Linked DNA regions of Homo sapiens. The protein of the gene in region 1 interacts with the protein of each later gene in a pairwise test. Each region holds a gene or a part of one and is shown in the gene's direction. Other genes may lie near its edges. The genes, in order: SAP30BP, FHL2, ZNF212 and OGT.

The links.
Region 2: the proteins of SAP30BP (region 1) and FHL2 interact in a two-hybrid assay, tested with the Homo sapiens proteins (one study listed by BioGRID and IntAct).
Region 3: the proteins of SAP30BP (region 1) and ZNF212 interact in a two-hybrid assay, tested with the Homo sapiens proteins (one study listed by BioGRID and IntAct).
Region 4: the proteins of SAP30BP (region 1) and OGT interact in binary tests that used the Homo sapiens proteins (3 or more experiments, as listed by UniProt).

Annotation. Positions count from the first base shown.
Region 1 is NC_000017.11:75,663,070-75,670,369, forward strand, and holds the start of SAP30BP (SAP30-binding protein), read left to right. Parts: upstream 1-4,268; 5' UTR 4,269-4,303; coding exon 4,304-4,409; intron 4,410-5,446; coding exon 5,447-5,556; intron 5,557-7,300. Other genes in the region: RECQL5 (ATP-dependent DNA helicase Q5), read right to left, coding at 1,982-2,103, 3,359-3,488. UniProt on the Homo sapiens protein: Plays a role in transcriptional repression by promoting histone deacetylase activity, leading to deacetylation of histone H3.
Region 2 is NC_000002.12:105,368,052-105,375,083, reverse strand, and holds part of FHL2 (four and a half LIM domains protein 2), read left to right. Parts: intron 1-1,350; coding exon 1,351-1,525; intron 1,526-7,032. UniProt on the Homo sapiens protein: May function as a molecular transmitter linking various signaling pathways to transcriptional regulation. Negatively regulates the transcriptional repressor E4F1 and may function in cell growth.
Region 3 is NC_000007.14:149,249,642-149,256,129, forward strand, and holds the end of ZNF212 (zinc finger protein 212), read left to right. Parts: intron 1-517; coding exon 518-907; intron 908-1,039; coding exon 1,040-1,166; intron 1,167-3,064; coding exon 3,065-3,154; intron 3,155-3,917; coding exon 3,918-4,774; 3' UTR 4,775-5,965; downstream 5,966-6,488.
Region 4 is NC_000023.11:71,571,072-71,576,392, forward strand, and holds the end of OGT (UDP-N-acetylglucosamine--peptide N-acetylglucosaminyltransferase 110 kDa subunit), read left to right. Parts: intron 1-2,548; coding exon 2,549-2,723; 3' UTR 2,724-4,821; downstream 4,822-5,321. UniProt on the Homo sapiens protein: Catalyzes the transfer of a single N-acetylglucosamine from UDP-GlcNAc to a serine or threonine residue in cytoplasmic and nuclear proteins resulting in their modification with a beta-linked N-acetylglucosamine (O-GlcNAc).

The DNA of each region.
Region 1 (7,300 bases):
TTCCCAGTCATAAACTGTCCTCCTCCCACCCTCCAATATATATTCTCTTTGCATAGAAGTAGTAGAGGTTGAATATCCTTTATCAAATGCTTGGGACCAAAAGTGTTCTAGATTTCAGATATTCCTGGATTTAGGAATATTTGCAGATTGCATATACATAATGAGATCTCTTAAAGATGAGACCCAAGTCTGAACATGAAATTCATTTTTTCTTTCACGTATACCTTATACATATAGCCTAGATGTAATTTTATATATTTTTAATAATTTTGACATGACGTTGTGCACATGTACCTAGAACTTAAAGTATAATAAAAAATATATATTAAAAATAATAATAATAATTTTGTGCATGAAAAAACAGTTTTGGCTGAGTTTTGACCGCAACCCATCACATGAGGTCAGAAAGGTGTGGAACTTTCCACTTGTGGAATCACGTCAGCACTAAAATTTTTTGGATTTTGGAGCATTTCAGATTTCAGATTTTTGCTTTAGGGATGCTCAATCTCTATGGAAGGTGAAGTGGTTTAGAGCACAGGCTCTGAAGTCAGACAGACTTCAGATTTAGATTTCATCCTGGCTCACTTAATCGCCACATGCTCGCTGGCTGTTTCTTACCCTCTGAACGATTTATACAATTCTATCTAATAGCATTGTTGTATAACTTAAAATTTACATCTGAGAGGTGAAATTAACGTATGTAAGCCGGGCGCGGTGGCTCACACCTGTAATTCCAGCGCTTTGAGAGGCTGAGGCGGGCAGATCACCTGAGGTCAGGAGTTCGAGATCAGACTGACCAATATGGTGAAACCCTGTCTCTACTAAAAATACAAAATTAGCCAGGCATGGTGGCGCATGCCTGTAATCCCAGCTACTCGGGGGACTGAGGCAGGAGAACTGCTTGAACCCGGGAGGCGGAGGTTGCGGTGAGCCGAGAACACGCCATTGCACTCAAGCCCGGGCAACAAGAGCGAAACTCCATCTCAAAAAAAAAAAAAAAAAAAGAAAGAAAGAAATTAATGTATGTAAAGCACTTAGCACGAAGCCTGGGACCTGGTGAACATTCACCAAGTTATTACTGTAGTTCCCTCTCTACCTTCCTTCATGGTGGATGGCTCTTACCCACACAGCCACACTTCCTCAATTCTGATTCTATCAGCCCATCTGCAGGCCTTAAATAGTCAGAACACCTGTAGAGCAGATGTTAATAAGGTCCCAGACAGTTTCTCATCTTTTTTTCTGTTTCACATACTGTGCCCTTACCAAAATAAGCAGGACACCAGGGATTCCCCATATCAACTTAGCTATCTATCCATCTGCAACTTCTGTCTCAACATCACGAGTGCACGTGTGTGTATACATGAGACTGAGTGTATATGTGTGTACAAATACAGTTTCATACTCCTCTGAACAAAAAAATAACAAAGGAGGGTGAGGGACCTCAGAGGAGTCATTCATAACCTCCCAGAGTGATATGCACCAGTGGAGAACACTACATTGGGGAAATACAGAAACCCAATATAGCGAATGAGATAGGCAAATCATAGAAAATAAGAGGCAGGGGCGGGTGTGGTGGCTCACACCTGTAATCCCAGCACTTTGGGAGGCCGAGGTGGGCGGATCATTTGAGGTCAGGAGTTTGAGACCAGCCTGGCCAACATGGTGAAACCTCATCTCTACTAAAAATACAAAAATTAGCCGGGTATGGTGGCATACACCTGTAATCCCAGCTATATGGGGGGCTGAGGCACAAGAATTGCTGGAAGCCGGGAGGTGGAGGCTGCAGTGAGCCAAGATCGCACCACCGCACTTCAGCCTAGGCGACAGAGTAAGACTCTGTCTCAAAAAAAAAAAAAAAAAAGGAAAAAGAAAAAGAAAAGAAAATAAGAGGCAAAAGACCAATAGAGAAGTGAAATTTCCAGCCTCAAAAAACCTTCCCCGAATCTTTTTGGGCTACCATCTTCATTGCCCTAAGCCTCACCTGAATCAAAGCAATGAGAGGAGAGACTACAATGGTGATGCCTTTGGCCAACAGAGCAGGGAGCTGATAGCATAGGGATTTTCCTGCCCCTGTGGGCATGCACACAAAGACGTCCTTGTTACCTGAAAAAATACAAGACAACAATATCTCAGTGCTTCCTGCCTTTTCATTGAAGTTGTTGAAAATTAAATGAGAATGTAGGAAAAGCACCTAGCAGAGTGTCTGGCACATGGGAGGGTCTCGATGTAATCCTAATTCCCCTCCTGTCCTTTCTATGAAAAAGGCAAGGATCCTGGGAAACTTGGATACATGCCCAAACCATTTCTAGTAATGGTTAAAAACAAGATTTAAAAAGTCTGGGTCAAGCGCAGTGGCTCACGCCTGTAATCCCAGCACTTTGGGAGGCTAAGGCAGGCAGATCACGAGGGCAAGAGTTTGAGACCAGCCTGGCCAACATGGTGAAACTCTGTCTCTACTAAGAATACAAAAATTACCCAGGCATGGTGGCACGTGCCTGTAATCCCAGCTACTCAGGAGGCTGAAGCAGGAGAATTGCTTGAACCCAGGAGGCGGAGGTTGCAGTGAGCCGAGATCGCGCCACTGCACTCCAGTGTGGGCGACAGAGCAAGACTCTGTTTCAAAAAAAAAAAAAAAAAAAAAGAAGTCTGAGTCTGCTGTGATATGGATGATTGAACTAAACAGCCATGAAAGCAGAGTACTGCTAGATGAGTGGGTACATCTGTGTAGACATGAGAGGACATTACTTAGAGGGCTTTTGTTTAGACATGTATCATTAATATTACATTGCTGCTCGCCTCTTGGCAACTTCCATTTGTCACCGTATCTCAGGTTTATAACATTATTACTCTTTCCTTCTCTATCTGGGACCAAGGCCACTCAACCTGCAACAAGGGAATTACCTAGGAGGCCAGTGACCGAGTTAAGTTATTCCTACCACCCTCACTGTTGCTGTTCGTTTGTGTGTACAAACGAACAATAATGAGAATCTGAAGTGTTTTCAAAGACCATGTGTAAATCTAGCTATGAAATATAGACCAGCTGGGTGGTTCTGCCACTAAAACTACAAGCTTTGGGCCGGGCGTGGTGGCTCATGCTTGTAATCCCAGCACCTTGGGAGGCCGAGGTGGGAGGATTGCCTGAGCCCAGGATTTGGAGACCAGCCTGAGCAACATGCCAAGACCCCATCTCTAATTAAAACAAATAAACGAAACTACAAGCTTTGACAACTCTAAAGATTTCCAAATCCAGTTATGGACCAAAGGTGAGGCAGTACGAAGGGTGAGGAGGAGGGTGTTCTGCCGCAGCGTTATGGTATAGCCAGCATAAATTTAAAGGAAGGTAGCTTGGTAATGTTACCTTTTACTACAGCCATGGTCGCACTCTCCTGTAAAGGCGTCTTAAAAGAGTCAAACCCAAAGACCTTCTTCAGCGTACTCCGGACTCGCCGCTCAGGGTCAAAAGGAAAGGTGGTATGGTGGCTGCTCATCTTAGCCAAGAACAGTGGCCAAAGGTTAAGGCAAAGGTAGTAAAAGGTTGCCACGAGAACCCTCTGTTTTGCATTAAAAATACAGATTATTTTTCTGTAACAATTTGCTATATTACACTTAAATAATGTATTATTTTTAAGTAATAAAGCTGAAGGTGAACTGCCTCAAGCAATACATTCCTCAGTAATTAACATCTCCACTTTTACGCTCAATGAAAATGAAAACATTGAACTATTCCAGGCCACGGTATAGCACAGAGCTAGAAATCAGATCAAGAGAAGAAACATAAATGTCTTCAGAACAGCTTGGAGAACGGGGAACCGTTTTCCTAAGATCCACCACCTGCTCCTACTTCTATAAGCGCAACCACGACGACCGTTCTTCCACCCCGGGACCCCGAACCCCTTCTCCCGTCTTCCTGAGCCCAAGATCCGCAATTTTCTCTCTTGGCTGGCCGACACCTCCCTCTCTTCACCCTAAGATATCAGAACCGGCCGTGGTCCGCCCAAGAATTAAAGGCTGCTGGCTGGTTCCGGAACTGTTCGAAGACCCCTATACACAACCCCAACTCAGAGAAGCCAAAGCGCTGGGAATTCAGCTTTAGGCAGAACCCACGCAATCTTATATCCGTCGCGCAGTGATGACGTAGCGCGAGCGCTGGCATGAGGGCGGAGCCAGGCGCAGGAAACTGCCGTTTTGATTGGTTTCCAGTGTGGCGCGGGGGTCTCCTGGGATCCGAAAGAACCTGCCTTTCCGCCCGGAAGTCGGCGTCTTGAGTCATAGGAGTGAGCCACGCCCGGGCTGTGGGAATAAGATGGCGGGGAAGAAGAATGTTCTGTCGTCTCTCGCAGTTTACGCGGAAGATTCAGAGCCCGAGTCTGATGGCGAGGCTGGAATCGAGGCGGTGGGCAGCGCGGCTGGTAAGGCCCAAGTGCGAAGCTGGAAGGGGGAATCGGGTGTCTGCCCGGAATGCTGTACCCTCGCTGGGCGGGAGGGAACAAGATGGTCATTGTGCTCCAAGCACCGGACCCCGAAGAATGGTCCAGGGTCCGGGGTGAGATAGAGCATTAGAGACTGTGGACTAAGAATGAAGAATCTCCTTCCCGTTATTTCGATTAATTTGCCTAAACTTACTGAAAGACTCCGTGCCGGCTATAGTGATAGACAGAGGGATGGACGAAGAGGGAGCGGCTGCTCAGCCACTGCCTGTTTCCCCTGGGCTCGTTGTTTGATGAGGGAGAGCGATAAGTAAAACATACGTGGAAGATGGTAAAGATTGTGTTCGTTAACTTTATAACTTTTAGTTAGGAATGTGCCCTAAACACATCTTGGAGCTTTTAAAAACAAACGTATCTGATGCCCAAAGTGAGAGAACCTAATTCGGTAGAACTGGGGTAGGATGTGGGCATTTGTGAACTTTTTAAGGATCCCAGGTGATTTTTCTTATTTTGTGAGTTTTTAAAGCCTAACGGTGATGTTCTCCTCCTCAGGTTGAGAAGCACAATGTTAGATAATGGAAACAGATTCCTTTGGGAGAATAAAGAACAAGTTACCTAACAACATATCAGGACCTTAGCTTCCTCATCTGGAAAGTGAAGGGGATTGGATTAGGTTAGGTACTTCCATGTTTTGTGATTTTGTGTGGTCTCTTCCAGTCAGAAAGTTCTCTGATGGTTTCCTATAAACACTTTAGTGTTTATCTAGTGTTTATAGCATTAGAAACAGAATTTAGTACTCGGTTTTGTTCCCTGACCTTTTAATGATTTTATTCAGTAAATGCTGGCCTTCTCAGAGAGCCGAATCTGGGCCTATTGTAACTTAACATGAGATTTAGGTTCCCTTTGTATCTTCAGAGATAGTCTTGGCCACTCAAATCTCTGGACATTTTTTCTTACATTGTAACTCTTGTTTTTTTTTTCTTGCTTTTTGTTTGTTTGTTTGTTTTTTAACCTTTCAGAGGAGAAAGGCGGATTGGTATCTGATGCCTATGGGGAGGATGACTTTTCTCGTCTAGGGGGTGATGAAGATGGTTATGAAGAAGAAGAAGATGAGAACAGTAGACAGTCGGTAGGTAAATCTCCCAGATCCAGAGCTACTGAAAGCACAATTTCATTTGTCAGATTTTGGAACTGTGCCAACAGTGTTCCATTTCATGGTTAGCTCCATCCCTTGCTCTCCCGTTTTGTTTTAGTATTAGTGGAAGAAACTGGATTGGATATCAGATCTGTTTGAAAATGTATTTTCACATGGATCATTTTTTATTAATCTTTGAATTGAAATTTGGGGGAAAAGATAGTGGATTATTTTATTTAACCCAGATATCAATGGGTGTTTTATGTTGATTTTTCCCTGTTTAAATGATTTACTCCATTTATAGCAGGCATTCATCCTAACTGGTGTATCATTTATATCTACAGTCAACTCTGCATTATTTTTAATCTTGGTTGGGGCTCATTTAAGTCTTCTCAGTTTATTAACAAGATAAGAAAGGAAAATTCGTTTTCACCTGCTTTTTCTTTTCTTTTTTTTTTTTGAGATAGGGTCTCACTCTGCTGTCCAGATTGGAGTGCAGTGGTGTGATCATAGATAGTTCACTACAGTCTTGAACTCCTGGGCGCAAGTGATCCTCCCACCTCAGCCTACCCAGTAGCTGGGACTACAGGTGGGCGCCACCATGCCTAGCTAACCTATTATTATTTTTTTTTGTCGGAATCTTGCTCTGTCGCCCATGCTGGAGTGCAGTGGTGCGATCTCTGCTCACTGCAACCTCCACCTCCCAGGTTCAAGCAATTCTCCTGCCCTCAGCCTCCTGAGTAGCTGGGATTACAGACACCTGCCATCACGCCTGGCTAATTTTTGTATTTTTCACAGAGACGGTTTCACCATGTTGGCCATTCTGGTCTCTAACTCCTGACCTCAGGTGATCCACCCGCCTCATCCTTCCAAAGTGCTGGGATTACAGGCGTGAGCCACTGCTCCTGGCCGATTTTTAAAATTTAAAAAAAAATTTTTTGTAGAGACGTTGTTTCACTATGTTTCCCAGTCTGGTTTCAAACTTCTGGCCTCAAGCAATTCCCCTGCCTCACCCTCCCAAAGTGCTGGGATTACAGGTATGAGCCACCATCCCTGGCCTTCTTAACTTCTTTCTTGACATTTTATTTGGCACTTTTTATAATGGTGCCCTTAGTTCTTGATCACAAATCTTGCCTGAAGTTCAGTAGGTGCTGGAGAAAGGAGAACCTGTGCTATTATTAACAAGAAAGTCTTTAGACACATAATCACCTGAGCAACATGAGCCAGAATTTAAGTTTGCAGAAAACGCAAGGAAATTGAAGTTGGTGCTTAGCATAAGACAGGCAGAGTTGAGTCTAGATGTCAAATCTGACTGCTTAGCAAGTTTTAATTAAATCACTTAAAATATATTATTTGTTTGAAATTTTTGTTACATGTTGGTATGTAAATGTTAGCATTAAAATTCTTTCCAGCCAAGCACGGTGGCTCATGCCTGTAATCCCAGCACTTTGGGAGGCTGAGGTGGGCGGATCACAAGGTCAGGAGATCAAGACCATCTTGGCCAACATGGTGAAACCCCATCTCTACTAAAAATACAATAATTAGCAGGGCATGGTGGTACGCACCTGTAGTCCCACCTACTCGGGAGGCTGAGGCAGGAGAATCGCTTGAACCCGGGAGGCGGAGGTTGCAGTGAGCCGAGATCACGCCACTGCACTCCAGCCTGGGCAACAGAGCCAGACTCCATCTTAAAAAAAAAAAAAATTATTTCCACAACAAACAGAAATGCGTTTTGTAC
Region 2 (7,032 bases), on another chromosome or scaffold:
GGTGTTTTAGGACTTTCTAATCAAGGCCAAGATCCATGTCTTCACATCCTACATTCAGCATAACTCCAGCTTCGACTTCGGTTTCAGTAACAGAGACATCGTGGGCAGGCTCTTCTTCAGGGCCATCGCGTGAACAGCCCTCCTGTGCCCTGTTCAGGATACCTACCAACTGGAAGCCTGCCCAGGAAACCGTGCAGAGCCTAATACTCTGTTTCTGCCTCATGTATAAATGGATGATGATTTGGGGTCAGAGCTGGGAACACAAAGACAGCAATAGAAACATATCCTTTCTAAGATAAAGCTGGGCATAAAGAGATTGTTATTTTAATTTTGTGTTGGCACTTTAAAAATGCCGTATGTCATTTTTAAAAGGCAAATATGGAGGGTTCTCTTATTCCTCAGGCAAGATGAAGCCAAGTGTGGAGTCGAGTTTTCTGCGGGGCTCCTTTCTCTCCCTCATCTTTTACTCAAAAGCACACGTCTGTCTTCTCAGGGCCTCTCTCATGTGTGCTCAGTTTTTGTCTCACTTCTCCCACCCTCACGCCCCTCCACTCCCACATCCTTACCCGTCCCCCAGTCTGAGCACTTCACTCTCCTGTTGAAAAGCAGCTGTCCACTGCCTTCAGGATCAATGGAATCTCTACACAGACATAAAAGGCAAAAAGGCAGCCATATCTTCCAGTCCAGCCAGGCCGGGGGGCCCTCCCACCTCGCCCCTGGCCTGTGGTCCCTCCAATCTGACATGCCCCCCGTCCCCAGATCTTCTGTGTCTGTGCTCTTTCTCTGCCTGAAATTCCCTTCCTCCCCCAGCTCACGGCCACCCACAGAGGTAGCACCCACACACACAGTCTCTCCTGACCGTCTCCCACCAAACAGTCCTTGGGCCTCCTGTGAACATCCCGACACCCAGAGCCTCTCTGCCATGCCGGTGACCACAGTGATCTGAGTTGGGCAGGGCTCCCTCAGCCAAGGATGTCCTGCAGTCTGTTTCTCTGTCACCGGATGTGGTGTGAGACGAATTGATAGGTGTTCATGTTTTCTGTTTCTCTTTCTTGCAGGCAATACATAAGGGAAATCCCTTTGTTTTTTAGAAGCATCTCTCACACACAGACATGTGCATACATGCACATCTGTCTAACCTGTTGCTCTAAAATGCAGCAAGAGAAAAGCAGCCTAGTCTTAATTGATTTCAGCAGTTAGGTGGTCCTGGGGCATGAATGTGGGTGCGCCAGGGTGCCTCGGCCCAACTTCTTTCCTTGTTTGCCCTGCAGATTCGCAAGGGGCCCCTATGCTGTGGGTCCAAGCCCTCCTGTCCTGCCTCTGACTGTCTTGTGTGGTCTGGCCCCACAGGACTTGTCTTACAAGGACCGGCACTGGCATGAAGCCTGTTTCCACTGCTCGCAGTGCAGAAACTCACTGGTGGACAAGCCCTTTGCTGCCAAGGAGGACCAGCTGCTCTGTACAGACTGCTATTCCAACGAGTACTCATCCAAGTGCCAGGAATGCAAGAAGACCATCATGCCAGGTCAGGAGGCACTCCTTTCTCATGCGTGAGCCAGTCTAGCTTCAAGCCTTGTGCACGTTCCTCTGACCCCCTGTTCACATTGACTTGGTTCCAGACACTCGTGTTGACTTTCCAGTTTGACCTTGAACTGCAGAGGAGTATTTAGAGTACTTACGAAGCAGGGACATACAGGTTCTATCATGGGCAGTAACGGGATCTTTTTGCTGTGCACGTGGGGCAGTGTTATGCAGTCAAATTGTTAGAGTAAGAAAATGGTGGGTATCCCCCTTAAAAATACATCTCCTGCATCAGCCCCCACTCTCCCACCACCATAGATAGTTTCTCTTTTCTTCCCTTCTACCTGCTGAATTTGTACTCATTCAGTTATTTCACCAAGTGTGCATGGTGCCCTTGCGTGCCAGGCACTGGGCTCGAGCTGAGCATTCGTAGGGTGTGAGCCGAGGTGCACCTGGTCCTCTGCCCTTGTAGAGTTGGTGTTCTAGACGGACAGTCAAAAAGGGCACAGCCGCAACTGGGCCAGGTGCCGAGGATGGCAATAAAGGTGCCTTGTGTGTTGATGGGACTGTGTCCCTCATGGTTTTTTTGTGTGTGTATGTGGGGGGAGTTATTTGTTTTGTTTTGTTTTTTATGTAGGAGAGCAGAATCTTTTATTTTAAAAAGCAAAGTGGACAAAAATATGTGGAATTTCAAAATACAGAAAGAAGCTGGGTGCGGTGGCTTATACCTGTAATTCCAGTACTTTGGGAGGCTGAGGTGGGTGGATCACTTGAGGTCAGGAGTTTGAAATCGGCCTGGCCAATGTGGTTCAGTGGTGCAATCTTGACTCACTGCAACCTCTGCCTCCCAGGTTCAAGAGATTCTTCTGCCTTAGCCTCCTAAGTAGCTGAGACTACAGGCGTGCACCACCACACCTGGCTAATTTTTGTATTTTTAGTAGAGATGGGGTTTCATCATGTTGGTTTGCTTTGTTTTTGATAATAAAGAAATACTGAAGAGACTGACATATGGGAAATAGTTTAGAAATATATGTAGGATGCCAGGTGTGGTGGCTCACCCCTGTAATCCCAGCACTTTGCAAGGCTAAGGAGGGCGGATCACGAGGTCAGGAGTTTGAGACCAGCCAGGCTAACATGGTAAAACGCTGTCTCTACTAAAAATACAAAAAATTAGCCGGGCATAGTGGCGGGCGTCTGTAGTCCCAGCTACTCGGGAGGCTGAGGCAGGAGAATGGCCTGAACCCAGGAGATGGAGCTTGCAGTGAGCTGAGATCACGCCACTGCACTCCAGCCTGGGTGACAGAGTGAGACTCCGTCTCAAAAAAAAAAGAAAGTTATGTAGGATAAGGAATAATCATTTTTTAAAAAGGCAAGGAGGTAATCTGACCTTTGGTAAGATGGTTTCTTACTGCCACTACATTTCTCTGGTTAATATAACTTTAAAACAACTGTGACACACTATGACAGGGAAGAAAAATGCCCAGGCTGACACAGTCCCAGCCCTGTTGGCAGCTGTAAGGGAAAACAGCTGGAAGGGCTGCATGGTGACTTTAGATGGGGCAGCTCCAGGCAAGAAGGCCTCTTCTAAGATCATGTGGATCCTGCAGAGGCTGGAAACTCGGGCCCCAGTGCTGTGCGACAGTGCAAATGAGAATTGAAGCCCGTAGAAAGCCAGGCTGACCTGTGTCCTGCCCCACAGGGAGTCACTGCAGAGACACAACACTCAGTAACAATAAGAACCACGACATTAATTGAAAAACAAATTAAACCCTTACTAGTTTCCTGAACAAGGGCCCAAGGAAGCTTCCACTGGGGACTCTAGGGGCTGTTTAAAGACTTTAACTGTTAGCACCAACCATGACATAAAAAGTATGCATATTTCCCGGATTTTGAATTTTTCACCTGTCTTGACTTTCTGTGTTAGTCACGTTCTCCAGAGAAACAGAATCAATCAAGGAAATGTATACACATAGATACATACATAAGGAGAGAGAGAGAGAGAGAGAGAGAGAGAGATTTCAAGGGATTGGCTCATGAGATTGTGGAGGCGGTAAGTCTGGAATCTATAGAACAGGGCAGCAGGCTGGAGGCTCAGGGAAGAGATGATACTGCAGTTCCAAATGGGAGCATTTGAATTCCGTAGGGCGGCAGGCTGGAAACTCAGGCAGGGTGTGTCTATTGCAGTCTTGAGAAGAATTAGTTGCCCTTAGGGAAACCTTAGTCTTTGCCCCTAAGGCCCACTACCGATTAGATGAAGCCCGGCCCTGATACGTGGGTAACGTGCTGCACTCGAAGCTTGCTGACTTAGATGTTAGTCACATCTAAAAAACACCTTCACGGCAACAAGTAAACCTGTTTTTTGACCAAACAACTGGGTACCAGAGCCCAGCCACGCTGACACATAAAATTAACCATCACACCTTCCCTTTCTCATGGTGTTTACTGGGGAGGGAAAGAAAAGAAAAACATGATCAGATAAGAAGTAAAAACCTAATGTTCAGTGAGAGGTAACCCATACTGAATATCTGAGAATTAACTGGCCGGCAGCCTCTTCTACTAAGGAATGGGGGAAGCAAGAATTCAGGCTCTGTGGTAAGAAATGCTGTGTAGTAATAATAACAACACAGCTACAGCTTCCAGCCCCTGAGCACACACACAGGCGTCAGACCCTGCTGCTTTACAGAATCCCATTGAATCTTCGGTGTTCCCTGGGTTGGATGGCTTCATCCCCATTTTACAGGTGCCTCTGCCAGAAGAAACGGACTGGGCACCAAAGGCAGGGCGTCTAGAAGAATCCCGGTGTATGCAAAACAAACCAGCACCGACAAAACACTGAATCAAAGCACTTGCTTGCCTGGGTTTGATTTTTAAAAGTGTTAGAACCCATTCAAGATGAATATGGGTTTACAGCGTCAGTGCACAGCTTTTGCGGTGAATTTACATTTAGAGGACAAGTGAAAAACTCACCCACCAGCTCCACACCCCCCACACAAGTCAGTTTCCTGATGACCAATCAGGAAACTGGAATACCATCAGTAACCCCAGTGCTGGGGTTTACCGGCTCTCGCGCCCCTATTAGCAGACGTTGCTTACAGATGCACCACAGCCTCTGAGCAGACTCAAGTAGCGATTCTGTCTCCAACCCTGCAACCAAATTTCTGGCTCCTCATTTGACTTTTTTTTTTTTTGAGCCAGGATCTCGCTCTTTCGCTCAGGCGGGAGAGTAGTGGTACGATCACTGCTCACTGCAGCCTTGACCTCTCGGGCTCAAATGATCCTCCCACCTCAGCCTCCTACGTGTCTAGGACCTCAGGCACACACCACCACACCCGCCTAATTTTTTTTTTGGGGGGGTAGAGACAGGGACTCTCTATGTTGCCCAGGCTGGTCGCCAACTCCTGGGCTCAAGAGATCTCCCGCCTTAGCCTCCCAAAGTGCTGGGATTACAAGGCTGAGGCACCGCAGCCAGCCTCATTTGACTATTTGAATCAGATTAAGACATCCCTTCTTCAAGACTGCGCTTCCGCCTGCGGGAGACTTGGTTCAGAGTGTGCGATTCAGTTAGGAGAAGGAACGCTCCTGCCACCTGCCGGTATTGCTGCATATGACCATGCAGGCTTGCGGCCACTGCTGTCGCCATGCCTGAGGTGCACGCGCCATGTCCCTGAGGCTCCAGGTGCCCTGTGCATTCCCTGCACGTAGAGTTGCCCTCGAACTGGTGTTGATCTGATCAGACTTATTTCAGAACTCGACAAGAATGCCATGAGAGTCATAATTGCCCCATATTCATTGGCAAAATCCTTTGGCTTCTGGGCTGCTTGATCAGAATGAATGTCAGAGATCCAAAGAGCAAGTGACAAAAGTATGCATGGAGGTTGAAGAAAATCTTTGTGAATTCAAAGTCCTTCCACTATTTTTACTTGAATTTCAATTGCTTCATGTAATGTTTGTTTTAGGATTCATCACCCCACAATTGAATTCCATAGATTGTACAGCTTAGTTTTGAATTAAAAGATCGCTGCGTGTCACCATCCCAAATTCCCTCTCACACATTGCCCCCCAACACACACCCTGCTTATTTTATATAATCTCAAATGTCTGGTCTTGGAAGTACAGGAAGCTGAGAAAATGATCCTAAATAACAATCGTGATAATTCTCAGCACATTCCTAATTACTGGAGGACAGACATTTCATGACCAACTTTCTAGCCAGCTAAAATACAACCCCTAGCTTTGTCCTTGGGACCATAAGATTTTGGGGCTGAGAGCTATGGACTAGTCTATAGACTCCTATAAGCCACCTGTGTTACTGCAGCTGCTTCCACCTGGTCTGGAGCGGGGCAGTCCCTCTGTCGGCTTGATTCCCCATCATTCCCTGACCCCCAGTTGAAGTCACATGTATGTGACCCTCATGCCACAGTCCCCAGGGATTGGCAACATTTTTCCTTCAAAAATCAGATAAATATTTGGGGCTTTGTGGACCATACAGTCTCTGTCACAACTACTCAACTATTACAACTACACAACAACTGCACAACTGCACACAGCTGCACACTACTCGGCCGTCTAGCTTAAAAGCGGATGTAAACAATGGAAGTAAATTAATGGGCGTGGCTGTGTTCCAATAAAACTTCATTTGAAAAGCAGGCAGCAGTCTGGATTTGGTCTTACACAGTGGCCAGGCCCCTCAGCTAGTCCGGGCACTTACAACACTTTCCTCTTTCTTTGTCCCTGATACTTATTTCCCCAGATTGTTCTTTACCTTTGCTTTATATGAAGGGTACTTGTTTATACGCCTATCTGGAATCATCCGTTACTATAAATAGATACACTTCTTTCTGGCAAACAAAAATGAAAAAATGTCAGTCAACAGACACCGAGCACTTGCAGTGAGTCCAGCTTGGTGGTGGCAGGGGTGACCCATAAGTGTTTCAGTTCTCTAGAGCTCCTCAGTTCACTTGGAGAAATGGTAGAAATGTATCAAATGCTAATAGTTATTCAAAAGACAATGGATGGCGTAGGTTTAGGCAATTACTAAATGGGATGTACAAGTAACACATGAAGATTTCAGCCAGGCATGGTGGTGTGCACCTGTAGTTCCAGCTACTCAGGTTGAGGCAGGAGTTTCCCTGGAGCCCAGATGTTCAAGGCTGCAGTGAGCCAGGATCGCACCACTGCACTCCAGCCTGGGTGACAGAGTGAGACCCTGTCTCGAAAACAAAAAAAAACTACATGTAGGTTTTAATTATAGCACTTAGTACAGTGCATAAAACTACCTAGATACATCACAACTTGGTTCAACAGGCAGTATGTAAAGTGAGTGTTGTAGAGGCTGCTCACTGAATCAGGTTCGAGGTTCCAGGTTCATTCACACTCTAGCCATTTCCATCCTGCTGTGAACCAGACGGGGTGTTCATTATCAGGTGTGCAATAGGTGAATACAGTCCCTAGACTCCAAAAGTCATGCTCCATGGGAATTCATCGGAGCTATGCCACACTTCTCTTTATACT
Region 3 (6,488 bases), on another chromosome or scaffold:
TTTTGAGACAGGGTCTCACTCTGTTACTCAGGCTGGAGTGCACTGGCACGATCTTGGCTCACTGTAGCCTCAACCTCCTGGGCTCAAACCGTCCTCCCACCTCAGTGCCCCAAGTACCTGGGACTACAGGCATGCATCACCATGCCTGGCTAATTTTTTGAACTTTTTTGTAGAGACAGGGTTTGCCTTGTTGGCCAGGCTGGTGTCAAACTCCTGAGCTAAAGTGATTCAGCTGCCTTGGCCTCCCAAAGTGCTGGGATTACAGTTGTGAGCCACCACGGCCAGCCCTAACAGCTTATTGTGTGTGAGAAGATTTTGTGTAATATTTTCTTTCTATTCTTCATCATTTTCCAACATTATTAATACAATATCTATGTATAATTTTTAGTATCAATAAAAGACATGCTTTTTTTTAATTAAAAGAAACTAGATAACTCTGAGCACTGATACACTTGAACACTGCTTTCTTTACTTGATGTTTGGAAGTGACATTGACCCTGTGTCTTTAATCCATCAGCACAGGAGAAAACGACGCTCCACACCTTTAACTTCTTCCACACTTCCTTCACAAGCAACAGAGAAAAGCTCCTATTTTCAGACCACCGAGATTTCACTCTGGACGGTGGTGGCCGCTATTCAGGCTGTGGAGAAGAAGATGGAGTCCCAGGCTGCCCGGCTACAGAGCCTGGAGGGGCGCACGGGGACAGCCGAGAAGAAGCTGGCTGACTGCGAGAAGATGGCCGTGGAGTTCGGGAACCAGCTGGAGGGCAAGTGGGCCGTGCTGGGGACCCTGCTGCAGGAGTATGGGCTACTGCAGAGGCGGCTGGAGAACGTGGAGAACCTGCTGCGCAACAGGAACTTCTGGATCCTGCGGCTGCCCCCGGGCAGCAAGGGGGAGGCCCCCAAGGTAGTCTCATTGAGGATTAAAAGTTAGAAGAGAAGGGGGAGCCAGCCCTTTAATATGTAAGCACCTCAGTTGCTGGCTTTTCTGTCATAGCTGTGAGTAGAAGCACTCATGGTGTGCCATTGGTGATTCCAGGTGTCCAGGTCACTGGAGAATGATGGCGTCTGTTTCACCGAGCAGGAATGGGAGAATCTGGAGGATTGGCAGAAGGAGCTCTACAGAAACGTGATGGAGAGTAACTATGAGACACTGGTCTCTCTGAGTGAGTAGCAGTTTTCTCCCTAGAATTCTGTCTCAGACATACTACAATTCCTGGCTGGCAGCCTGTAATTCAGACCACACCTGTGGCTCCTGTGGCTGTGGGTCCTCTGTCGGCCTGCACGGGCAGAGAAATGCCAGTCTCTAGGTCCTCCCATTTACAGACCTGCACGGGTGGAGAAATGCCAGTCTCTAGGTCCTCCCATTTACAGAGACTTTTGGAAAGCTCGCAGCATTGTGCCTTTTGTGTTTTTTTTTTTTTTTTCCTGTGGTCACATAGTCTGTTCTTGATAGTATTTTCTAATAAATAAAATGTCATATACCCTATAGTGTGATATGGCTAGGGTTCCTCATGTTGTTTTTTAATTTATTTTATCTTTTTTTTTTCTTTTTTTCTTTGAGACAGAGTCTTGCTCTATTGCCCAGGCTGGAGTGCAGTGGCACAATCTTGGCTCACTGCAACCTCTGCCTCACAGGTTCAAGCGATTCTCCTGCCTCAGCCTCTCGAGTAGCTGAAATTACAGGTGACTGCCACCACGCCCAGCTAATTTTTGTATTTTTAGTAGAAATGGGGTTTCACCATGTTGGCCAAGCTGGTCTTGAACTCCTGACCTCGTGATCTGCCCACCTCAGCCCCCCAAAGTGCTAGGATTACAGGTGTGAGCCACTGCGTCTGGCCTGTTTTATCTTTTTTTTTTTTTTTTTTTTTTTTGAGACTCTGTCACCTAGGCTGGAGTGCAGTGGTACGATCTCGGCTCACTGCAGCCTTGACAGCTTGGGCTCAAATGATTCTCCCACCTCAGTTTTCCGAGTAGCTGGGATTACAGGCACATGCCACTGCGCCTGGCTAATTTTTTAAATTTTTTGTAGAGACGTGGGTCTTACTGTGTTGCCCAGGCTGGTCTTGAACTTCTGGGCTCAAGTGATCCACCCACGTCGGCCTCCCAAAGTGCAGGGATTACAGGCGTGAGCCTCCGCACCTGGCCTCTCATGCTGTTTTTAATATTTAAGACTATTTGAGATGGGTGTGGTAGCTCACATCTGTAATCCCAACACTTTGGGAGGCCAAGGTGGGAGGATAGCTTGAGGCTAGGAGTTCGAAATCAGCCTGGTCGACATAGTGAGATCTCTGTTGCTTAAAAAAAAAAAAAAAAAAAAAAGATGATTTGATAACCCTATGTTACCTTGGATGAGGCAGGCAGCACAGGCTGATCAAAAGCATTTTCTTGGTGTTTGGCCGGAATTATAGCTGGTCATTGTGGTCTCAGTGATTTTTTCTTGTTGATTAGGAGTGCTGCTTAATAGATATAAGTCTTTATATGCAAAATGTTACCTATTACATAATAAATGTGTTTTGTTTGGTAGACAAAGTCTTTTAAAACCTAGGTACATGGAGGAGTGTCAAGTGCCTGGAGCAGAGTAGGAGGTAAAGGAAATAGAAAATGGGCCAGAAAAGTGACCTTGTAAGCTTGGTTGGGTCACATGCTCTCATTGTGACTGTTTCCTTGTCTGTCCCAGTGCCCATCTTACCTTGCAGTGCCTTAGCAAGGATGAAATTAGATCCCCTGAAAGGAAGCATTGGCAAGACTTAAGCTGCACGCACATGGAGAGGCAGAGGTGGGTGGTGGTGCCATCAAGGGCAGTGGTAGCTCTGTAGCCTGCCTGCCTGAGCCACAGCCCCTCTAATGGAGGAGCACTGGAGGCAGCAGCTAGCCAAGTCAGTTGTTATGATTGGCCAGAATTTTATAATTGTCCCAAACTGCTAGGGGAAACTGACAAGAACAGTAGCCTTTGAATCTATATTTCCTCCCTGCCATTGGTCATCTTGGTCACTGGCAGCTGATCAGTGTGCAGTGAGCTTTCACTCTCTCCTGGGCTCACACTGTGCTGTTTCCCACCCAGAGGTCCTTGGCCAGACAGAGGGAGAAGCGGAGTTGGGTACAGAGATGCTGGGTGACTTGGAAGAGGAAGGTCCTGGTGGTGCCCACCCAGGTGAGTGGCTCTGGAATATTCTGTTCCCCTTCCATAGCCCTCTGTAGCCTAGAGTGAGCTTTCCCACGGCTGAAGTGCCAGGTGCTGACTTGGTGACCTCATCTGGCATCTGCTTGTTCTGGACTCCTTTATGATTGTCGTTAGTTCAGCTGTTACATATGCCTCAACTCCTACCACCCTGTGGGGTCTTTAAGACTAACGGCCACATCAATCATTATTCTTCATGCCCTACAGAATAGAGTACCGTACGAGGCGGTAGTCAAAACCTGCTGGAGATTGAGCGTAGGTATGTCAGAGCTTCAGGAGGGAAGGCAGTGCAGGAAAAGCACTTGTCAGTAGGTAATTTGGGAGGTTATGGAGGAAGAACAGAGCTGGACATGAATTCTTAAGCTGTAGGTTTAGTTTGTCTTTAATCATTCAAATTTGTTATTTTAACACTCTTAATTGAGTATAGTTGTTACAGTGTATTCTGTCATTTTTCACAGGGATTAAATATAAATTTGTAGACAAGCTTGGAGAACTATCATTTACAGTATTGTTTTATAAGAGTAATACATTTATATTTCCAATCAACATTGGAAAAACTGTACATGAATATAGTTTTATAGAAGTCTTGGAACCTAGCCAGTGTCATCCTCCTCCACGTTATCCTAATTCACTTATTCCTGGGGTGCTTCTGAAATTCACAGATGTTTGTTTGGTCCTGAAGAAACCAAAGGTACTAGAATGTGATCTTTTTTGTTGGTCTTCTTCCACTTTGCAGCAGGTGGGGTCATGATCAAACAGGAGCTACAGTATACACAGGAAGGCCCTGCGGATCTTCCTGGAGAGTTCTCATGCATTGCTGAAGAGCAGGCTTTCCTGAGCCCAGAGCAGACCGAACTCTGGGGTGGTCAGGGCAGTTCTGTCCTCTTGGAAACAGGTCCTGGGGACTCTACTCTAGAGGAGCCTGTTGGTAGTAGAGTTCCTAGCAGCAGCAGAACTGTGGGCTGCCCGAAGCAGAAATCTCATAGGCAGGTACAGCTGGACCAGGAATGTGGGCAGGGCCTGAAGCTGAAAAAGGACACTTCCCGCCCCTACGAATGTTCTGAGTGTGAGATCACCTTCCGCTATAAGCAGCAGCTGGCCACACATCTGCGCAGCCACTCTGGGTGGGGGTCTTGTACACCTGAGGAGCCAGAGGAGAGCCTTAGGCCCAGGCCACGGCTGAAACCACAGACCAAAAAGGCCAAGCTGCATCAGTGTGATGTGTGCCTGAGGAGCTTCAGCTGCAAGGTGAGCCTGGTGACCCATCAGCGTTGCCACCTGCAGGAGGGGCCCAGTGCCGGCCAGCATGTCCAAGAGAGGTTCTCACCCAACAGCCTGGTTGCCCTGCCTGGCCACATCCCTTGGAGGAAAAGCCGGAGTTCCCTCATCTGTGGTTACTGTGGCAAGAGCTTCAGTCACCCATCTGACTTGGTGCGGCACCAGCGCATCCACACGGGTGAGCGGCCCTACAGCTGCACTGAGTGTGAGAAGAGCTTTGTCCAGAAGCAGCACCTCCTGCAGCACCAGAAGATCCACCAGCGGGAGCGGGGTGGGCTGGCCCTGGAGCCCGGAAGGCCCAATGGCCTGCTTTAAGGGTGCAGCCCCTCGCCCGTCTGGGGGATGGAGGGGGGTGGCATTGGTTCCCCCGAAGAGACACTGCAGTCAGGGACTGAGTTCTTCCTGAGGGCAGTTGTTTGTGATTGCCTTCCCTTGTCCCAGTACCAAGCCAAGCCCAAAGGCTGTCCTGAAAACCCTGTGGAAGAAGAGTCCAGGCCAGGTCTTCATCCTGCTGCCAAGTTTGCTGTTTCTTGGCACCTTCAGGTCTCTGGTTTTCTCATTCATGCCAATGCTTGTGGGCTGGGGTTGGCGTTCTGACCCCACAGGGACTGGTGGCTGGTTCCAGGGCTCGTCCCGGCATTTCATGTCTTCCCACGGGGTTGAGTCGGGCCATAGGGGTGAGCAGCTGCCTGGAAGAGTTCTGGGAAGTATAACCCTCCATTTTTTCTTGTTTTATAATCTCTTTGTTTAATAATAAGTAGAAGAAATAATTTAAATGAACTGCTTAGCCCTGCTCTGAAGAACCTTTTTTGGAATTAGATTTTAGTTGATTTTTTAAAGAATACAGCCCAACACTTGTTTTTTACATTTTAAGAGTTGTAGAAGTTGTTCCTAACTTGGGGACTGGACCTACCCTCTAGGAGGGAGTTGTTAATGGGGCTCTTTTAGCCCACTGATGCTTACTTAGGCCGGAGAGCAGGGGACACGGTGCTAGGTTCCCTCGTGCAGTGCCTGGTGCTCTCAAATTGTCTCAAAAGGACCAAGAGGAAAAGAGTCGGAGGGGTAGACCCTGCAGCCCTGTTGAGAAGAAAGATTCCAGTGAAGTTGCTGATGGTATGGCTGTGGTCTGGGACTTGCGGTGTCTCGGCATACCCCTCTCCTCTTCCCACCTCCTCCTGGCTATGTTCTGCAGCCTCCCAGAGTAGAAAACTACTTTGTTACTTAAGGTTGTTCACCTTGTACCAGTGGTTATTTGAGTTTGTTCCTATTACACCAATCCTTACTTGAGGTGGTTCGGATTACAGTTTCCAAATGCATTCTGGGATTGCCTATTCCAGAGAGGGTACAGAAAAAGCACACAGATGGCTTGTCTCAGGAGTGTTGAATGTGTGCCCCGCTGCTGTCTGGGGGGATGGGAGTGGGCTCTGGGGTCATATGTGAACATCCCCTTGGATGATTTGCGGTTGCTTAGAATAAAACTTGCTACTAGCAAAAGAAAAAAAAAAAGTTCATACTGGATGTTTTTCTCCGTTTGTCAAGAACACTCTCCTGGGGCCAAGGTGGAGGAGAGGCACCTGACCTGGAGTGATGACAGGGAAGGACTGATGGCACAGCCTAACCTGCACTTTTACTTAAACCTAGGACAGAAGACAAGATGTGGCATGGGTGAAAATTTTCAGGGGACTGTACTTATGATGGTGGAGAGCTGGAGACAGTCTGGGTGATGGCTATTGGGAGGTAGAAAGAGTAGGTGAAATGTGGGTACCCCAGGGAGTGCCAGGTAGCTGTTACGAGCATTGGCTTAGATATATGCGTAGCCATCTGGATCCATCTTAAACACAATGCCGAGGGGAAAAGGTAAGAAATTGAGATCTATAATGTAACACCATTTATATAAATTAAAAATGCATGTACACAAAACATTTTGTAAGAACACTTGGGACCAAAGGAGACCCGTTAAAAGACATTACAGTTTTCCACGGGGAGAGCGAGCAAATAAGTAGAAGGAAACTTGGCTTGCTGTAAGGCA
Region 4 (5,321 bases), on another chromosome or scaffold:
ATTACAGGCGCGTGAGACACTGCACCCAGCCTGTGGTGCATTTTAAAATTTTTATTAGACTCTTTGGTACTTAGTTTGGTTCATACAATGCTTTTCCTCAACATTTTTGTTCTCAAAATTTTTAATTTTATAATAAACACATCTATACCTACTGCTTAGAATCTACCATTAGCATTTTACTATTCTTGCTTTATTACATATCTATTCATCCATTTATTCCCTTTATTCATCTGCCAATCCATCTTATTGGACACATTTTGAAATAAATTGCAGACATCAGTACACTTCTCCTTAAATACTTAAGATTGGCTGTCATTAACTGGAGTTCAGTACACATATATTTTTTTGAGGTAGGGTCTCCCTCTGTTTCCCAGGCTGGAGTACAGTGATACGATCTCCGCTCACTGCAACTTCCGCCTCCCGGGCTCAAGCAGTCTTCCCCTCAAACTCCTGAATAGCTGGAAATACAAGCATGAGCCACCACACCTAGCTAATTTTTGTATTTTTAGTAGAGGCAGGGTTTTGGCAGGTTGCCCAGGCTGGTCTCAAACTCCTGACCTCAAGTGATCCACCTGCCTTGGCCTCCTGAAGTGTTGGGATTACAGGCGTGAGCCACTGCGCCTGGCCATTTTTTTCTTTTGAGGCGGAAGTTATATACAGTGAAATACACAAATATTCAGTGAGTTTTGAGAAATAACCCTTTTTTTTTTCGTTTTGAAACGGAGTCTTGCTCTGTCGCCCAAGTTGGAGTGCAGTGGTGTGATCTTGGCTCACTGCAGCCTCTGCCTCCTGGGTTCAAGCGATTCTCCTGCCTCAGCCTCTTGAGTAGCTGGGACTACAGGCACGTACCACCACACCCGGCTAATTTTTCATATTTTTAGTAGAGATGGGGTTTCACCGTGTTAGCCAGGATGGTCTTGATCTCCTGACCTTGTGATCCACCTGCCTCGGCCTCCCAAAGTGCTGGGATTACAGGTGTGAGCCACAGTGCCCAACCGAGAAATACCTTTGTAACCCAAATTCCTATGAAGACAAAAAACATTATCACTCCAGAGAGTTTCTTCATGCTCCTTATCAGTCAGTCTTTTTCACCAACCCCCAGAGACAACCACTGTTCTGGAGGGTTTTTTTCCCTTCCATAAATTAGTTTTGCTTTTCTAGAATTTTATCCAAATGGAACTATGTCAATATGCACTCTAAAGGCTTCTTTCATCAAGTTTATTTCTTTTGCTGAGTAGTATTTCACTGTATGAATGCACTACAGTTTATTTTCCTATTGGCATAGAATTTTAAAAAAATAGAGTGCACAGGTCTTTCTCTTTGGAGGGTAGCATTAATATGGACATGGTTGTATTGAGACCAACAGATATGCACAACCATTTTACTGCTTCTGTCACAACAAACATTAAAACAAAGTTGGGCGTGGTGGCGCATGCCTATAATCCCGGCGCTTTAAGAGGCTGAGGGAGGAGGATTGCTTGAGCCCAGGAGTTCGAGACCAGCCTGGACAACATGGCGAGACCCCATCTCTACAAAAAATACAAAAATAGCTGAGTGTGGTGATGCGTGCCTGTAGTCTCAGCTTCCCGGGAGGCTGGGGCAGGAGGATTGCTTGAGCTAAGGAGGTTCAGTCTGCAGTGAGCCATCATCGTTCCATTGCACTCCAGCCTGGGCAACAGAGTGAGACTCTATTTCAAAAATTAAAAGAAAATAAATAAAAATTATTGCTTTTAAAAATGCACAGAAATGTTCTGGCTTCTGGTTCTAAAGTATTTATCCCTTCATCTAAGAATAATCTCATGAAAAATATATTCAAAAGGGAAGTAGAAATCTTTTCCCCTGTGTTTCCTGAAGAATCAATTACTTCTTTTTTATTTTTCTGAACAGAACCATACTCTTGGTGATATTAGCAATTTTTAAAAATCTGAACTCAGTTCAGGTACAAGTGGAAAATTACGAGAGTAGACTTATTGTATTTCTTTTCCCCTTGAGTGGTTTTCTGTTTCATCAAAATGACCATAAATCGAATACTTCATCTTATGTTTATGCTTTAACTTTTGTAAATGATGCTTCAATGAATATCTTTGCATGGTCCTGTATGTTTTTGCATCTGATTATTTCTTTTTAATAGATTTTAAAGTGTTACTGTTAGGCCAGAGGGTTATGAACATTTAAGGTTAATACATACTTGCTAAATTGCTTACCAAAAAGGTAAGCAACAGTACATAGGAATAGTCATGTGCCGTTGTCAATTCTTGTTATTTTAAAGGTAGAAACAAGACGAAATGGAGAACGCGTGGTATCCCTTGGATATACTTGTTTAGGAAAGAACTAAGTTTTTTCAGAGTATATGGAGTTGAGCTCATTTCAGTGTTAGCATTATGCAAGATGTGACCCTTCCCTTTTTAGCACGAAGCCAATCAAGAAATGAGATAGCGTAGAGTTTGGTCATGCATTTTTTGCCACAAATGCGACTAGGTATTTATAGGGTGTGTTTCTGAGTTTCTGCTCTGATTTGTAAACTGGGTTCTTGTTTTTTATTACCCAGCCTGAAGAAAGTTCGTGGCAAAGTCTGGAAGCAAAGAATATCTAGCCCTCTGTTCAACACCAAACAATACACAATGGAACTAGAGCGGCTCTATCTACAGATGTGGGAGCATTATGCAGCTGGCAACAAACCTGACCACATGATTAAGCCTGTTGAAGTCACTGAGTCAGCATAAATAAAGACTGCACAGGAGAATTACCCCTATACCTGAGCCTCAACCTTCTGGGGGAAAGGGAACTAGATAACATACTTCTTACTTGTCTGTACAGTACCTTGTTGCAGATGGGTGATATATAATGGTAATAGAATAGCACAGCCAGACTTGCTTCCTGCATGGTAGGGAGAGACACAAAAGATGGGAAACTGCTTTTCCACAAGGAATCTCCGTAGAATTTTGCGGCGACCAGATGGTGCATAGGTCTGGAAGGTCTGATCTCCCTTGGTCTTCCATGGGATGGTTAGTGTGGAGGGGAGATATAGATTGTCCGGCCGCTTTGTGATTCCATGGATTGATTCAGTCTTCTGGATTTTTTTTTCTTTATATTTTGGGTACTGGAGCTTTTAAAAATGTTTGGTTTCAGGTATTTTTATTCATGTGAAGTGTATATGATTCTCTTGAGATAAGGTTTTAAGCTAAAATGTTACTCCCTGTTTTAGTTTCTGAACTCTGACAGATTGACAGGGACTTTGCTGGTGTAGTCTTTTTATAGGTTTTATAAACCACTTGAGCCTATATCAGTCGTTTTAGTGTCTGACCTAATATTTGGAGCTATCAGTGCTTTGTTGATTTAGATGATGACTCAAGATTTTTTCTGGTCCATTTCCCATTTCCTTTTCTTCCCTGACCCCCATACCCTCACCCTTAAAATTCTCCTGTAACTCAACTAACAAAATCAAGCCTGATTCAAAACATCCTAGGGTGTTTTAAACACACCATCTGGTGCCAAATGAAGATTTTTAGGAGTGATTACTAATTATCAAGGGCACAGTTGTGGTACTGTCATTGATAATAATATAGTTTTTTTTTTTTTCCTAATTTTGACCTGTTTCACCAGTGTTTTACCCTTGACTGCCCCTTCTATGCTGCTTCCAAAAGTGATAGTGTGTGTAAGATTTTTACCTTCCTTTCTAAAGTTTTTTTTTTTTTTTTTTAAGTGAGTCCTGTTCTTCCTATTTCTTTCAGCAGAAATGAAATCCCAGGTAAGTATAAGTATTCAAGTATTTGATCAGTAAGTCACAGTTATCTCCAGTGCATTAAATAACCTTCATCAAGAAATAGGTTATAGGTAAAATCTCTGAAGGATCATCTATGTATTCAAGTAATTATTTTTTAGATAATAACTGTCTTCTGGACTTGGTCTTGAAGTCTGTACAGATTCAGCCTCAGTAGTAGCGAACTGCACTGCTGTTTGGTTTGGAGTACAAATTAGACTTATAGTCCTCCTGGAACTTGAGTTATTAAAATCATAGGAATAAAATTATGGGATCTCAACAAAGGGTCGAGGGTTTGAGGCTTAAACAAGCCAACATATGAATATATGTTTTGTCTCGCTATACTGCACTTACGCTATCCAGTTGCAGGTAATTTTTTGTCTGCTAGTAGTGTTCTAGATTATGTCTTTCCAAAGCGCTGAGGCTGTGCACCTATTCTGTAGTTGCAGCTGATGCCTGAATGTATCCTAGCTGACAAATTATTGATTAATAAGAACTTGAATTTCTGGAAGATTCTTACTGTTAACCAAATTTTGAGCAAGGAGTCTCAAAGGTAATTCTGAACCAGAATTACATGTTAATGAACAGTGTACCTTTTAACAGTGTAAATCACGGAATATCCGTGAAGGGATTTCTTAATTTATTTTTTACCGGTTGATTGAAATATCAGTTAAAGGTTGCCAGCATGGTTGCAGATAAACTGATGTTTGAAATTCGCTGAAATACTTAATGTGGAATAGGATAATATACTTCCAATGCCCTCAAGGCTGTGACCTTACAGCCATTTTACATAGCACATCATTCCTCCTATAGGGATGAACTTTTTCCTGGCACGAAAAGTAGCCGCTCTGGTTGAAGCTTTGCTTATTGTAACAGGCTTTTATTTCCAGGTAATATGTCTTGGAAGACTTAATTCTGATTAGAGATATAGATATTACTGGAAACTAATTGTTTTTTTTCTATTGTACTCTGCTTTATCAAAGAAGTAAAACATTTAAATCGTACTACAGAAATTAAGATGTTGTCTTGCGATCCTTAATAAATGAATGATTTCCCTTTAATACGGCTGATGTATTTTGTATCCTGTTATATTGAGTGTTGGACTGAAGAATAGTGTCATCCAATGATGAAACCTATATTTAAACACCTCCAAACAGCATGAAAGGACCAAATTTCCCTACTGTAGCTATGATATTAGGAATTGTTTTCTCAGCCAGGTCTGGTAGAGGGTGGGGTTAGTTTATGATCCATTAAGAAGGCAAAGTGGCCTTGTGTGGTGGCTCACGCCTGTAACCCCAGCACTTTGGGAGGCGGAGGCAGGTGGATCACTTGAGGTCAGGAGTTCAAGACCAGCCTGGCTAACATGGTGAAACCCTGTCTCTACTAAAAATACAAAAAAACTAGCCGGGAGTGGTGGCACACGCTTGTAATCCCAACTACATGCGAGGCTGAGACAGGAGAATCGCTTGAACCCGGGAGGCAGAGGTTGCAGTGAGCTGAGATCGTGCCATTGCATTCCAGCCTGGACAACAGAGTGAGATGTCATCTCAAAAAAAAAAAA